Linked DNA regions of Homo sapiens. The main gene of each other region encodes a partner of the protein of the gene in region 2 in a complex. Each region holds a gene or a part of one and is shown on either strand. Other genes may lie near its edges. The genes, in order: KLHL12 and PEF1.

Region 1 (7,275 bases), about 170 Mb from region 2:
AAAAAAAAAAAAAAAAAAAAAAAAAATTACTTTGAGACATAAGGTGACTTTTTGAAGCTGTTACCAATTACACTCCCACCAACACTATAAAGGTGCCAACTCATTCTACTTTCTGAGGCACTGGATAGTTTTTAAATCTCTGACACTCTGGTAGGCAAAAAATTATGTTTAATTCTTTATAACTAATAAGACCCTATTATTAATTAGGTTGAACTCCCTCCCTTGTATCTAGTAGCCAGCTTTACTTGCCCTTCTGCGAACTGTACACTCAAATCTTTATTGTTTCTCTCATGCATTCTTGTTTTTTTTTTCTTTTTTGAGACAAGGTCTTGCTCTGCTGCCCAGGCTAGAGTGCACTGGTGCAATTATGGTTCACTGCAGCCTCAGCCTCGACCTCCTGGGCTCAAGCATCCTCCTAGCCTCCCACTTCAGCTTCCCTAGTAGCTGGGACCACTAATTTTTTTCTTTTCTTTTTTTTTTTGAAACGGCGTCTTGCTCTGTGGCCCAGGCTGGAGTGCAGTGGTGTGATCTTGGCTCACTGCAACCTCTGCCTCCTGGGCTAAAATGATTCTCCTGCCTCAACCTCCCCAATAGCTGGGATTACAGGCATGCGTCACCATGCCTGGCTAATTTTTATACTTTTAGTAGAGACAGGGTTTCATCCTGTTGGCCAGGCTGGTCTCGAATTCCTGGGCTCCATCGCCTGCCTCAGCCTCTCAAAGTGCTGGGATTACAGGTGTGAGCCACTGCTCTTGGCCCTGTCTCATGCATTCTTATGAGCTCTTTACACACAAATGGTTTTAACCCTTTAACCCTTTATCTATCTATCTATGTATCTATCTATCTATCTATCTATTTATCTATCTATCTATCTATGAGATGGAGTTTTGCTCTTGTTGCCCAGGCTGGAGTGCAATGGCACGATCTTGGTTCACCACAATCTCCACCTCCCAGGTTCAAGCAATTTCCCGAGTAGCTGGGATTACAGGCATGTGCCACCAAGCCCGGCTAATTTTGTATTTTTAGTAGAGACAGGATTTCTCCATGTTGGTCAGGCTGGTCTCAAACTCCCGATCTCAGGTGATCCACCTGCCTCAGCCTCCCAAAGCGCTGGGATTACAGGCGTAAGGCACCCTGCCAGGCCAACCCTTTAACCCTTTAAAGGGTTGTTCCAAACCTATGTTCCTAATTTATCATAATTTTGTATATGATTTTTTTATTTATTCAAATATGTTTTTATTCTTTGTCATTTCTTCCACTATTTTGTGCCTAGAAAGTCCTTCTTCCCCAGAAGAACTCCTAAGGTTTTAATGTTTTAACCCTAAGTTGGAGACCAATACTCAAACAATCTGACTCGTGTAAAAAAAAGCTAGTGAAAGAGTCAACCTGAAAGAAGCCTGTTTGTTCTCTGCCAATGATGGAGTACTTGTTAAGTGAGATTTTTATCTTTTTAATGAGAAAAGCTTGTCTAGGACATCTTACAAGAACAGTGTGAAAAAGCACATTTCTAAAACTGAAGAACCTGGCAGTGGCATGGTCATTATTTTTAGAAAGAGGGGAAGGGGAGTGTGTGTGTGCTGTGACACGTTGTTAGAGAAATAAGGCAGATGCAGGACTGCTAAAATAACAGGGTTCAGAGACTCACATTTCCATTTGCACTGATCTTTAGTTCAAAAAAGGAGACAGCCACAAATTAGAAAAGTAATTTCCATTATATCTTCTTTGAGACAGTAATGGGTAAGGTTAATAACTAAAAATCCCTTATTTGGCAGGCTATTTTAACTTGGCTGTCAATTTAATTTCCTTCTGCTGTATGCAGAAGAGTCATTATCCTGGTAGCTGGTTTAGCAGCCAATATGCATAGAGATGGGTAGAGGACATGATGGTAAGAACAATCTACCTGCTAAGGCACTGACAAAGCGATACTAAGAATCTAATTGGAAACTGCTTCAGCATTTCCCTTCTAGAACTTCTGAAAAATAACCTCAAGACTATGAAGATATATAGATTTATAGTTTAATCCCTTAAGGTCAGGGCAATAAGCAAGTTCTCTAACCAAGCAGGAGCCCCTTCTGCTGCCTGTTCAGAGATATGCAAGAAATGTACCTCCAAAGAATCTTCTGGGTTTACTGATTCACAAAAATTTTCATTAGCTTTTAGTTCAATTTAATAAGCAAATAATGAGTGCTATCATGCAAAAAGGAAACATTTTTCTGTGTTGGAAAGTACCTTAGTGACTGAACATTAACTCTGTTGATATAAAGAACTGGTAACCCAGAGAAGTTAAAGGACTTGTCCAAACAGCAAGTTACTAGAGTGAGTGTCGGAAATTGGAGTAAAAATCAAAGTAAGCAAAATGTCTTATCTCCTAGTGCCAGGTTCTTTCCACTACATCACTGGCTTTCATGGTATAGGTTGAGTAACCCTTATCTGAAATGCTTACGACAAGAAGCGCTACAGATTTCAGACACTTTTGGATTTTTGTAATATCTGCATTATTTCTTTGCACAACTATTTGCGCATCCCTAATTCAGAAACCCCAAATCCAAAATGCTTCAATGAGCATTTCCTTTGAGCATTATGTTGGCACTCAAAGTTTTAGATCTTGGAGCATTTTGAATTTCAAGATTTTCAGATTAGGGATACCCAACCCGATTTTTTTTTAGACAGAGTCTCACTCTGTCGCCCAGGCTGGAGTGCAGTGGCGTGATCTCAGCTTACTGCAGGCTCCATCTCCTGGGTTCACGCCATTCTCCTGCCTCAGCCTCCTGAGTAGCTTGAACTACAGGTGCCCGCCACCACACCTGGCTTTTTTTTTTTTTTTTTTTTTTTTGTATTTTTAGTAGATACGGGGTTTCACCGTGTTAGCCTGGATGGTCTCGATCTCCTGACCTCGTGATCCACCCGCCTCGGCCTCCCAAAGTGCTGGGATTACGGGCATGAGCCACCGCGCCCGGCCACCCAACCCAATTTTTAAAAATAATAATTATTTTTTAAAAAACAAAAGTAATGGCCAGGCGCGGTGGCTCATGCCCGTAATCCCAGCACTTTAGGAGGCTGAGGTGGGCGGATCACCTGACGTCAGGAGTCCGAGACCAGCCTGGCCAACGTGGTGAAACCCCGTCTCTACTAAAAAATACAAAAAATTAGCCAGGCGTGGTGGCACACACCTGTAATCCCAGCTACTTGGGAGGCTGAGGCAGGAGAATCGCTTGAACCCAGGAGACAGAGGTTGCAGTGAGCAAAGATTATGCCACTGCACTCCAGCCTGGGCAACAAGAGCAACGCTTCGTCTCAAAAAAAAAAAAAAAAAAAAAAAAGTTCCTACCCTGGGAGGAAAGGCAAAATTGGGAGTTTATTGTTTAATGGGTACAGAGTTTCAGTCTTGTTAAGACAAAAAGAGTTACAGAGATTGATTGTATAACAATGTATTTAACATGAGTCAACTGTACATGTAAAAATGGTTAAGATGGTAAATTTTATGCTAAATATATTTTATTTAATTAATTTATTTATTTTTGAGATGGAGTCTCACTCTGTCGCCCAGGCTGGAGTACAATGGTGCAATCTTGGCTCACTGCAACCTCCGCCTCCCGGGTTCAAGCGATTCTCCTGCCTCAGCCTCCAGAGTAGCTGGGATTACAGGTGTGCACCACCACACTCAGCTAATTTTTGTATTTTTAGTAGACATGGGGTTTCACCATGTTGGCCAGGCTGGTCTCGAACTACTGACCTCAAGTGATCTGCCCACCTTGGCCTCCCAAAGTGCTGGGATTACAGGTGTGAGACACCGTGCCCGGCCTGTTACATATATTTTACAAAAAAGAAAAAAAAGACTTCCATCCAGAAGGTATACAAATATTTTCCTATAATTTCTTCTAATATTCTCATAGTTTTTCACCATTCAGTCCTTCAATCTATCTTGTGTTGATATGTATCTGTGTATAAAGCATATGAAACACAGATCACATTTTGTCATCTTGCAGTAGTAGAAAATACCATCTACAATGCCCTATCTAAAAGTTCTCTTTTTAAAAAAATGCAGTATCTTTGAGTGGTAAGATTATGGATGATTTTTATTTATTTTTTGCTTCTCTGTATTTCTACAAGTTCTACATTGAACATGCAGTACTTATGCCATTAAAAAATATAGGAGAGGGAGCCAGGCATGGTGGCTCATGCCTGTAATCCCAGCACTTTGGGAGGCCAAGGTGGGTGGATCAATTGCAGCCAGGAGTTAGAGACCAGCCTGGTCAACATGGAGAAACCCTGTCTCTACCAAAAATACAAAAATTAGCCAGGGATGGTGGCAGTCGCCTGTTGTCCCAGCTACTCGGGAGTCTGAGGCACAAGAATTGCTTGAACCTGGGAGAGGTTGTAGTGAGCCAAGATTGCACCACTGCACTCCAGTCTGGGTGACAGAGCAAGACTCTGTCTTAAAAAAAAAAAAAAAAGGAAAAAAATTATATATATATATATGGGAGGCCTGTAATCCCAGCACTTTGGGAGGCCAAGGCAGGTGAACTGCTTGAGTCCAGGAGTTCAAGACCCAGCCTGGGCAACAAAGGAAGGCTCTGTCTCTACAAAAAAATATAAAAATTAGCCAGGCATGGTGGCACGTGCCTGCGGTCCCAGCTACTTGGGAGGCTGAGGTGGGAAGACTGCTTGAGTCCAGGAGGCTAAGGCTGCAGTGAACCGAGATCACGCCACTGCACTCCACCCTGGGCAACATAGTGAGACCTCATTTCTATTAAAAAAAATAAAATATAGCGGATAAATCACCATTCTACCTAAACCCATCAGTGAGCAGCTTAATTATCAACTAACACCTTAGCACGCATCATGAGTCCTCAGTCAGATAAAAGGAAACAATAAAACAAAATACCACCCCATACATATAGAGTAATTCATAACTTATAAAATGTTTTTATACACTATACACCTAGGCTTTTGGACAGTGAAGCAAAGAGAATAGGAAGTGGAAAGTATGGTGATATCTGAGTATTTAGTGTGTGCCAGCTATAGTGTTAGGTATCTTATATACATTATCTCATTCAATCCTCCCAACACTGAGATAAGACACTAACTCTCATCTTAGTGGTAGACATACAGGCTCAGATAAATTGATACCTTGCCCAACCAGTCATTGCTGGGGCTTGGATTTGAACCTAGGTCTATTTGCTAAGATAATAGCTAATACACATAGTTATTATGTGCCAAGAAGTGTTTTAAGGCTTTACATAAATAACTTTATTTACTCTTCATAACAATGTTACAGGCAGGTGCTACGATGATTCCATTTACAGATGAGGCAACTGAAGCACACAGAGGTTAAGGTTCCTGCCCAAGTTAATAAATCTAGTACGAGGTAAACTGGTACCTGCACCAACAGTAACTGCCAAAACCCATGTACTTTCTACCACACTGGGCTCCTTTTCTTCCTCTCTTCATTCCGGAATGGAAAAACCACATAAGGGGAAGTGAAGAGGTGGGTGGAAGCATATACTACTTACCTGCCATTATGTGGCACTAAAATTATCTCTAATTCACAGAATCTAAATAATATTGACAAAAAATTGTAACATATTATGTAATGCCTGACAATGTATAAAGTGCTTTTATATTTTATCTCATTTAATTTCCAAATAATTATGTGAAGTAGATAGAGAAGACATCCTTGATTTATAGGAAAGAAAGCTTAGAGTGGTAAAGTGACTTGTCTGAGATGATAGAAGAAAAGGTCTGAAACGAGGTGTCTGTACTTCTTATAGAGTATTATTTTCAACTATGTTGTCACCTGCAAGAAGTAGTTGAAAAGCATCCCCTCATTCTGCCGAGATACCAGCTTACCTAGGCGAGCCCTTGTCCTGGGTCCCTGCATCTGACTCCGAAGTTCAGGCCTCAGATGAAACTTCTTTGCTTCATCAACCAGATCCCTGCATTGTAAACTACAGCGGATGAAAGGCTGAAATATAGCAGACAGCAGAGTTAGGCACTGGGGATACCTGTAATACTATAAGAGTACAAAGAGCACATGCAAATAATTAACTTCTGACTACAGAAAACCAGTTTGCAAAGCCCTGTGATTCCAGGAGTATTGCTGGTAGTAACCATGCTCTCGGTTTCCAGAAATGATTTTTAAAATTTACTTGAAAAATAGATAACATACTAGATGGATCAAAAATCAAATGATATAAACAGATATGTTGAGCAGTATTTCCCATCTATCGCAGCGCTTACATTTAACTATTTTTACATAGTTTGGATGCCCTTCCAGGGATTATGCAAACACAAGTACATAATAACTAATAAGAATTTTAAGGGGAAAACCAAAAAGATTCTGTTATTTTCTGGGTGACAGGAAGAATCATATTTTGTCTGAAATATCTCCCCCAAGGTTCACAGTCCTGTTGTAATTACCATTGTCTATTTCTGACAGCTCTGTACTGGACATCTTTCATTTGCCTCCCAACTCACTCTGTACCTTTTTCCACTCTGCTCTCTGGCTCAGAAGACTGGCCTATATGAACTGTGTCAATAGGGCTTCCTATGCCTTCTAGCTTCTGGTTGGGATCAGCCCAACCAAAGGTCAAGGTTTCTCTCAAGGCAGTGACTCTACACGATTCTCTTTCCTTTAAGGTTCTAGTAACCACTCCTCAACCTTGTCCCTTCAGGCTTAGGGGTTGTTAATAGCTTATGTCCTAGATCCAGGTTATTTCACTGTCTTTTGTTGTTTCTCTGAACTTGCGCCTTTGTAAACAGCTTCTTTATTAAAAAAAACTCTTCTAAAATTGTCCTGTTTTGAGTATAGCATCTGTTTCCTGTTGGGACCCTAAAGGACACAGCTCTAATTAAATGGCACCTCTATTAACCTGACCCAAGAAGTTCTTAGTCGAACTGGAAAGGAAAACAAACAATAAATAGTAGTAAACACTTATGTACAAAGACTTGGTTTTAAAAGTTTTCACATAGTAACTTACTCAATGCTAACAAGAACCTATGAGGAACGTACTATTATCATCCCTGTTTTACACATAAGAAAGCTAAGGCACAAATATATTAAGACATATTAAGTTCACAGAGTAAGTGGTGAATTTGGGATTTCAGGCCCGAGTCTGGTTCCAGAGTCTGTGCTCCTAAACACAATGTAAAGAACTAGACACAAGGGATATGTGAATTGGTTGTAAGAAAGACAGAAATCACAAACAGGAGAAAAAGAGTTTGAGATGTGACACTGACCATGCTGCAACTTTTCTAATGTGAACAACTGAAAAA
Region 2 (7,705 bases):
TAATTTTTGTATTTTTAGTAGAGACAGAGTTTCACCATGTTGGTTAGGCTGGTCTTGAACTCCTGACCTCAGGTGATCTGCCTGCCTCGGCCTCCCAAAGTGCTGGGATTATAGATGTGAGCCACCGTGCCCGGCCATGGATATTTTTTTTTTTTTTTTTTTGGTGCTGGAGATCCCAAAGGACTAGATCTTTTTTGTGGCTGTCCTGAACAGTTTATGGGAATAGACGATGTCAACGTACTCTACTTATGATCCCATAATGGAAGGGGAGTGTGGCCAAATTGCCACGTCTGCTGTTCTCATTCCTCTGTTGCTTCTGTGGAAAGTTGCAAATCATCCTCTGATCCACAGCATCCAACTGGAATTTAAATTTCAGAACTGGATCTAGTTGGAATCAAAGAGAATTAATTCCATAATAATTAGGTGGGTGTTGGTATTCCTTCTCAGTAAGCCTTACAGAAGCTTGGTGCGAGCCAAGTGGCTCCTGGGAGGCTGTGTCTCTAGGGGAGGCAATATTTTCCAGTGGATGGGCTTTTCATTACCAAGCTCTGCCTCACCCCTAATGGGTCAACCGCAGGGCTTCCACGAACTCAGGAAAGTGCTCTGTGTTCTAAAAAAAGTCTGGAATCCATGCTTTCCCCTTGGGCTACAAGTGAAACAATAACAGGAACTTCTCCACCCACCTCTGTCTGCCTCAGGTAGATGAGGTTTTGGAAGTGAGTTGATTGTTTTTCAGTCTTAGGAAGATCCTGATCTCTCTTTTATCCAGCCCCCTCCAAAACAAACATACCTGGGCCTGTGTGGGTCCTCAGAGGCACAGCCCTGGCTGTTGGCTTTGGCACGTTCCTGACTCCCTAAGAGAAGATGTGGATGCTCCATCCACGAAATAGCACAGACCTCCCACAGATAGTTCTCCTAAGCCCTTTGCTGGGCATAGGGGAATGGGGGCAAATAATTCTCATAGGAGTTGGATTCTCATCACCTAGAACAGAGCCTGGCAAGAGGTGGGAACCCAATGGGATCATATGTTTGTGGAATAAATGAGTGTGTGTCACATGACTCCAGTTTGCAGGCCAGCTTGTCACTGTTCTCTCTCCAGGCAAATACCCACTTGACCTTCAACCTTCTTCCCTTCTGAAGTTTTGCAGCTCAATTCCACCAATATTTTTTGAACTGGGGGGTTAGGAAGGTAAAGAAGACACAATCTACTAACTATTAAATACTGAGTAGTTAAAAAAAATGCAGACCTGGGATCAAGTCCTACTTCTCCATTTATCTTTTTTTTTTTTTTTTTTTTTCCCCAGACAGAGTCTCTCTGTTGCCCAGGCTGGAGTGCAGTGGTGCAAACACAGCTCATTGCAGCCTTGACCTCCTGGGCTCAAGCAATCCTCCCACCTTGGCCTCTGGAGTGGCTGGGACTCCAGACACATGCCACCATGCCTGGCTAATTTTTTAAAACTATTTTTTGTAGCGATAGGGTCTCACTATGTTGTCCAGGCTGGTTTCGAACTCCTAGGCTTAAGCGGTCCTCCTCCCTGCCTCCCAAAGTGTTGGGATTATAGGCGCGAGTCACTGCGCCTGGGCTCCATTTATCTTTTTGATAACAGGAAGGTCACTTAACCTCTCTGAGCCTCAGCTCCTCATTATAAATGGGTAATAGTCTCTATCTCAAAAGACTGTGGTGAAAATTAAACAACACATAGTACTTAGCACAACGTCTGGCACCTAGTAAGCACTCAATACATGATAATAATAACTACTAACATTGAATTCATGCTAGGCACTATTCTAGGTGCTGAGGTTAGAGGACTACATAAGAAAATGACAATTCTACAATATACATGTAAACAAAGTGGACAATTCAACTAGTGACATGTATTATGAAAAAATAAGATAGATGATGGGAATGCTTGGGGGGCAGTGTCAAGAAACTCCCCCCACCCCAGGTGATATCTGAACTGAGACCTGGATGATAAGGAGAAGCCAACCAGTGAAAAGTCAAGGGAAGACTATCCCAGACAGAGGGAAAAGCTAGTCCAAAGACCTGGAGGCAGGAATGAGCAGGCAGTCAGAGACCAGCCAAAGCCAACATCCAGGAATGAGCTCTGTACATTCCAGGAATGGCACAACCAGGCCGGCATGGCTGGAATGAGGCAAGGGGGACAGCAACAGCAAGAAATGAGGCTGGAGATGCTGGTATGTGTGGCCATGAATGTCATTAGGATGAGTTTAGCTTTTATTATAAGAGTGATGGGAAGTCCCCAGGGAGTTGAAGCCAAGGAATAAGATAACCACTCTGGCTGCCTGTGGAGAAAATGAAGCGTGGGGAGAAGAGTGAGAGCAGGAACATTGGTCAGTCGGCTATTGTAGTGATCCAGGCACGGATGATAGTGTCTTGGACTACAGTGATAGTGCGAACAGGGAGAAAAGAGCAGATGTGTACATGTTTGAATTAGAGCAAATGGAGATGAGGGAGGTGAGGGAGTGTGTGGAGAAAAAAAGGACACACAGGAATGATCTTAGGTTTTTGGCCTGAGAGACTGGGTGGATTTTCTGAGATGGAGAGGAATGGGTTTTGGGGAAAACACCAAAAGAAAACTCTTATACAAGGCAGGCTGGAATACCACACAGTGACAGTACCAAGTGCAAAGGGGGAGTGGCAAGAGAGAGTGGCTAACTCTGGAGCTAAGGGGAATGTGGGAGGGTTAGGTGGAGAATGGAATTGGAACTGAGCCTTGCAGGACTGGAGTTGGGAGGGCTGCTGGTCCAGGTGAAAGGAGTGGTTTGAACCTAAGTTTGGGGCATGAGCAGGTATAATAAGCTCATTTTCAAATTTACACATTTGTTCCTGTCAGCTAAGAAAAGTGAAATTTAGAGAGGTTAAATAACTTGCCTAAATAAAATGTGGTAGATATACACTGTGGAATACTATGCAGCCATAAAAAAGGAACAAGATCATGTCCTTTGCAGGGACGTGGATGGAATTGGAAGCCATTATCCTCAGCAAACTAACAGAGAAACAGAAAACCAAACACCGCATGTTACCACTTATAAGTGGGAGCTGAATGAGGAGAGCACATACACCACTGGGGTCTGTCGGAGCGTAGAGGGAGGTGGGAAGAGGGAGAGCATCAGGAAGAATAGCTAATGGATGCTGGGCTTAACACTTGGGTGATGGGATGATGTGTGCGACAAACCACCATGGCACACATTTACCTATGTAACAAACCACATCCTGCTCATATACCCCTGATCTTAAAAGTTGGAAATTAAAAACAAACAAACAAAAAACCTGCCTAAGGTGATACAGTTAGAAAGTGATAAAACAAAGATCCTCCCTCCAAAGCAGAAGTGCTGAATGGTGGAACTGAGCACAGAAATACAGAGTAGCAGAAGGGGCCGTAAGATTGGAAAGTTGAGGCTGGGCCAGATTCTGAAGGGCCTGGAGTACCAGAATGAAGAGATTGGGCCTTATTTTGTAGGCGTGGATGAAGAGCATCCATTGTAGGCTGTGTAGTGGGCAAGTGGCATGATCAGCACTGTGATTTTGGAAAGTGCACTTGGTTAGATAGATGGACTAGACTGGATAACAGTTCGTAACATTCATTTATTCATTTATTTTAATAATCGTGTCAGTCGCTATACTAGGTACTGGAGTTATAATGACAAGCAAAAACAGACAAAACCCTAGCCCACATGAAAGAACTTGACAAAGAAATCAAATAAGCACACAAATAAGTGTAGAAACGGAACCACTGAGTGGCAAGTACATGGTGCTGAGATCACTCGGTCACCAGGATTTGACCTACGATGGGGACCGACCTAGACCTCCCTGCTGAGAACTGGACATCCATTGACCCCGGTTCTAGGCGACCCACTGTGAGCTAGGGCAAGGCAACTGCCTCTCTGCACCTCAGTTTCCCCATTTATGAAGAAAGAGGCACTAGATAATTCAATTTTCCTCCAACTCTAATGATCTGGGGTTTTTTTCTCCAAAGACCACAGATCTGTATCCCACTACAAGGGTACTAACTGGTACCCAGTACCTTGACATTAGAGGAGTAATTCCGCCATCGCCTCTCCCTACCGGGAAGAGTCGGTCGGTTCCCCGTTGTCAGGGCAACCGCCTGGCCACCGCCCCTCGTCTCCTTTCCCGCGGCTCATCTGCGGAAACTCAGGAGCTACTCCAGCAATTACGTCACTATCATGCGTCCCATTTGCCAGGTTATAACATGGCTACCGCAGCAACACCCCACCCAGGCTTCTCACTAAATTTCCCAACCTGACCACCTCTTCGGCCCACTCCACCTCAGGAAAAGGAGGAACATTAGCGCTGGTACAGCCGCCAAGACTTCCGGAAGCTCCATCAATCACTTAGCTCCCCTGGTCTCTCGGGTAGGCATCCGCCCACCGCCCCCATCGTCACTTCCGTCGGCCGACAGCACCCAAGATTGACAGGCGCGGACGTCCAATCAGATGCGGGCCCAGCCCCAAAGCCGAGACGAGGGGCGGGTTTGAGAGCGGAAAGCCCCACCCCTTGCCTGAGTGTGACGTCAGAATCACCATGGCCAGCTATCCTTACCGGCAGGTGAGTGTGTGAGGGGCCCGCGAATCCAGGTAGCGGCGGTGCCAGGCGCAGGCCCGACGTCCCCCTGCTCTTTCTCCCCGCTTTCTCCGCGCCCTTCCCACGATGGGTTCGCTTCAGCGAGGCCTTGCGCTGTAGAGAACCGAAAAGGGACCGTCGGTCGCGCCCTGCTCACGTCATGAAGGACCGCACATTCGCGAGGTCGTGTCGCGCCCCCTTGACGTCGCTCACTCGAGGATTTGGGGACCTTGGACCCCACAGGTCCAGGCTGGCGCTGGCCTGGGCTCCACAGCCTCCCAAGGCCCTCATGGGGGCCTTGGGCGGGGGCATCAGCCATGACCGGAGGTTTAGAGTTCTGGTTCCGCCGATCTCATTTGGGGCGTCGGATAAAAATCCAGGCTTCCGGACCCACCCCACACTGCATCAGAGTCATCAGGAAACTCTGGTTGTAGCAGGCGCCACAAGTGAGCTGGTTTGACCACTGACTTAGTTCAACACCGCCATTTCGCGTGTAGAAAAGTGAACCCCGAGAAGACACAGAACTTACCTGAAGTCACCAGGCAGTTAGGCAGCAGGGCCGAGGTCAGAACCCGGGCTATCTTCAGATGCCTCTTCCCCAGCGTATCTTGATTCAGTCAGGAATACCGCAGCAAGGTGATTCTGTGGCCAGAATTCTTTGTTGGGTGATAGTAGGGTGTTGAAGTGCACTTTGGTGTCAGAGGTAGGTTCATATCTTAGCTCTACCACCTAAATAGTTGTGAGCCCTTGAGCAAGCTGTTTTGCCTTTCTGAGTCCAAGTTTCCGCCTGTAAAATAGGGCCGAATAATAGGATCTGCCTCATAAAGCTGTTGTGGAGAGTCAGGAGGTGATGCTTACGAAGCGTTTGGTACATAGTGAGGTGTAACATGTGTTGCCCTTTAGCATTTTGATTTTTAGTAGACTTCTAAAAGGCCAGTGCCCGGAGGGTCCTCAAAATAGAGCCCTCATTTTACAGAGGAGGAAATGAAGCCCACAGAGGGCTGCGATCACACAGTTATTTAGGAGATGAAATCCATAAACGAAATGTGGGAAAACAAGATCAATTGGTATATTACACAGTGCTCAACTGAGTTTAGTCACAGGCCAAAAGATGTAACAGTCCTTCCAGGGAGTGCAGTCTTGTGCGGGTTACACAGTGTTTGGACCTCCATTATCCTAATCATGAAGTCCCTATCGGCATGCAGGTATTATTACCCCTAATTAACTGCTGAGGAGCAAACCCAAAGAGGTTAAGTGGCTTCCCAAAAGTCACACGTAGTAAGTGAGGGTGAGGCCATGACCAGAGCTTAGGACTTCTCTTATTGCATCCTTAGAGAGAGGTAGGAAAGAGAGAGGCCAGTGCGGGCTGGAGTTAGGAAGTGTAGCATAGCAGTTGCTTCCTAAAGTCCATTCCATTTGCTGAGTCTTGGGAGGTTTTAATAGATATTGTTAATATAGGAGGATTCTGTAGTTAACTAAAGTTTTGGAAATACTCTTAAGTATAGCTGAATAAGTTTATTGACCACAAGCTATTTCAGAATCCTTAATTTGCTAATGTACATTGTAAATCATCCAGAAAGGAATATAATATGCAGTATTTCTTAAACATATCTAACCATAGAAACTCCGCCTCCCGGCTTTCTTTTCAGATGTCTGGTCACTTTTTTGACTCTAGTATTTCTGAGGAACACAGGCTGAAAAAACATTCATAGCGCCTTGTTTCCCAGTGGCTGGTCTTCTGCCTCAGAATCAGCTGAGAGCTTGTTTAAGAAAGCACACTTTTGGGTCCCACTTCAGACCTGTTCTGTACCCAGGAATCTACATGCTAATAAGCATTAGGGACAATTGGTGTGCATCCTAAAAGCAGTGACAGGTTAGAGAGAACTGTGCTAGAATTCTAGCTGTATTACTTAATAGTTATATACCCCTGGACAAACTAAGGGCTCTGAGCCTCAGCTTCCTCACCTGTATAAAGGGAGAAATAATACCTGTGAAAAGGGCTAAAATGAGGTTAAAATGCAGGGAGCCTGGCGTGTTGCTAGTGCCTAGTACATGCCAGTGTCTGGTGGCAGCTCTTGCTGCCGTGACTGCTCTCATGATGCCATGCTGCCTGGGCTATTCCTGGAGTGAAATACTGAAAAGGAGCACAGAGAGAAGAGTCTGGAATAGAAAAAGAAATGTTGTTTTTTTTTCCTACCATACCCTTGTCCGCCTCCTGGTCTCAGGTGTTCTAAGAAAGGAAACGAGTTGTTTTAAAGCATCTCAGTCAGTGCTGCCTCCCCTCCACCCACTACATAGCTTTGGAGGATTCCAGCCTATTGTTAGGAGTCAGAATTCCTGTAATTTTCCACTGCTTCCAGTCCAGGGTACCCAAGCAGGGACTGGGTATTGGAGTAGTAAAATTCAAGCACCCTTTGGTCCTATGGGGGAACGAGCTTGGTGGATTTCAGTGCTTAAGAGCTTAGTTTTTGAGGCCAGAGAGAGTTGATTTCAAATCCCTGCTTTGTCACTCCCTTGCAGAAGTTTGTTGCAAAAGTCTGAGACTCAGTTTTCCCTTTTTTGAAAAAAATTTTTTATTTATTTGTTTATTTTTAAGACAGAGTCTTGCTCTGTCGCCCAGGCTGGAGTGCAATGGCACAATCTTGGCTCACTGCAACCTCCGTCTCCCGGGTTCAAGCAGTTCTCCTGCCTCAGCCTCCCAAGTAGCTGGAATTACAGGCGCACGCCACCACACCTGGCTAATTTTTTGTATTTTTAGTAGAGACGGGGTTTCGCCATGTTGGCCAGGCTGGTCTCAAACTCCTAACCTCAGGTGATCCACCTGCCTCAGCCTCCCACAGTGTTGGGATTACAGGCGTGAGCCACCACGCCTGGACTAGTTTTCCCTTCTTTAGAATGGGGTCATAATAGTATCTACCTCAGAATTACTCTAAAGATTAAATGAGAAAATCCACGTAAAGTGCTAGGTATGGTGTTGGGCATGTAGAATACTCCAAGTGGAGGAGTAATGCAGTTATGCAGATTGAAGAGGCAATGTGATAAGTATTCAATGGGAGTAAGTGTAAGGTACAGCACGGGAGAGTGAGATACCTAACTCAGTCT

The links.
Region 1: the proteins of PEF1 (region 2) and KLHL12 are in contact, whole or in part, in a crystal structure (PDB 8RBH), measured with the Homo sapiens proteins. Residues at the interface, in NP_036524.1 of Homo sapiens: Gly15, Gln16, Ala17, Pro18, Gly19, Ala20, Pro21, Pro22; in NP_067646.1 of Homo sapiens: Phe289, Gln293, Arg320, Tyr321, Leu371, Glu417, Tyr434, Ile439, Phe481, His486, Cys511, Tyr512, Tyr528, Leu533, Cys558.

The regions. Positions count from the first base shown.
Region 1 is NC_000001.11:202,903,160-202,910,434, forward strand, and holds part of KLHL12 (kelch-like protein 12), read right to left. Parts: intron 5,966-7,275; coding exon 5,851-5,965; intron 1-5,850. UniProt on the Homo sapiens protein: Substrate-specific adapter of a BCR (BTB-CUL3-RBX1) E3 ubiquitin ligase complex that acts as a negative regulator of Wnt signaling pathway and ER-Golgi transport.
Region 2 is NC_000001.11:31,641,724-31,649,428, reverse strand, and holds the start of PEF1 (peflin), read left to right. Parts: upstream 1-4,552; 5' UTR 4,553-4,564; coding exon 4,565-4,588; exon of another isoform or gene 4,589-7,705. UniProt on the Homo sapiens protein: Calcium-binding protein that acts as an adapter that bridges unrelated proteins or stabilizes weak protein-protein complexes in response to calcium.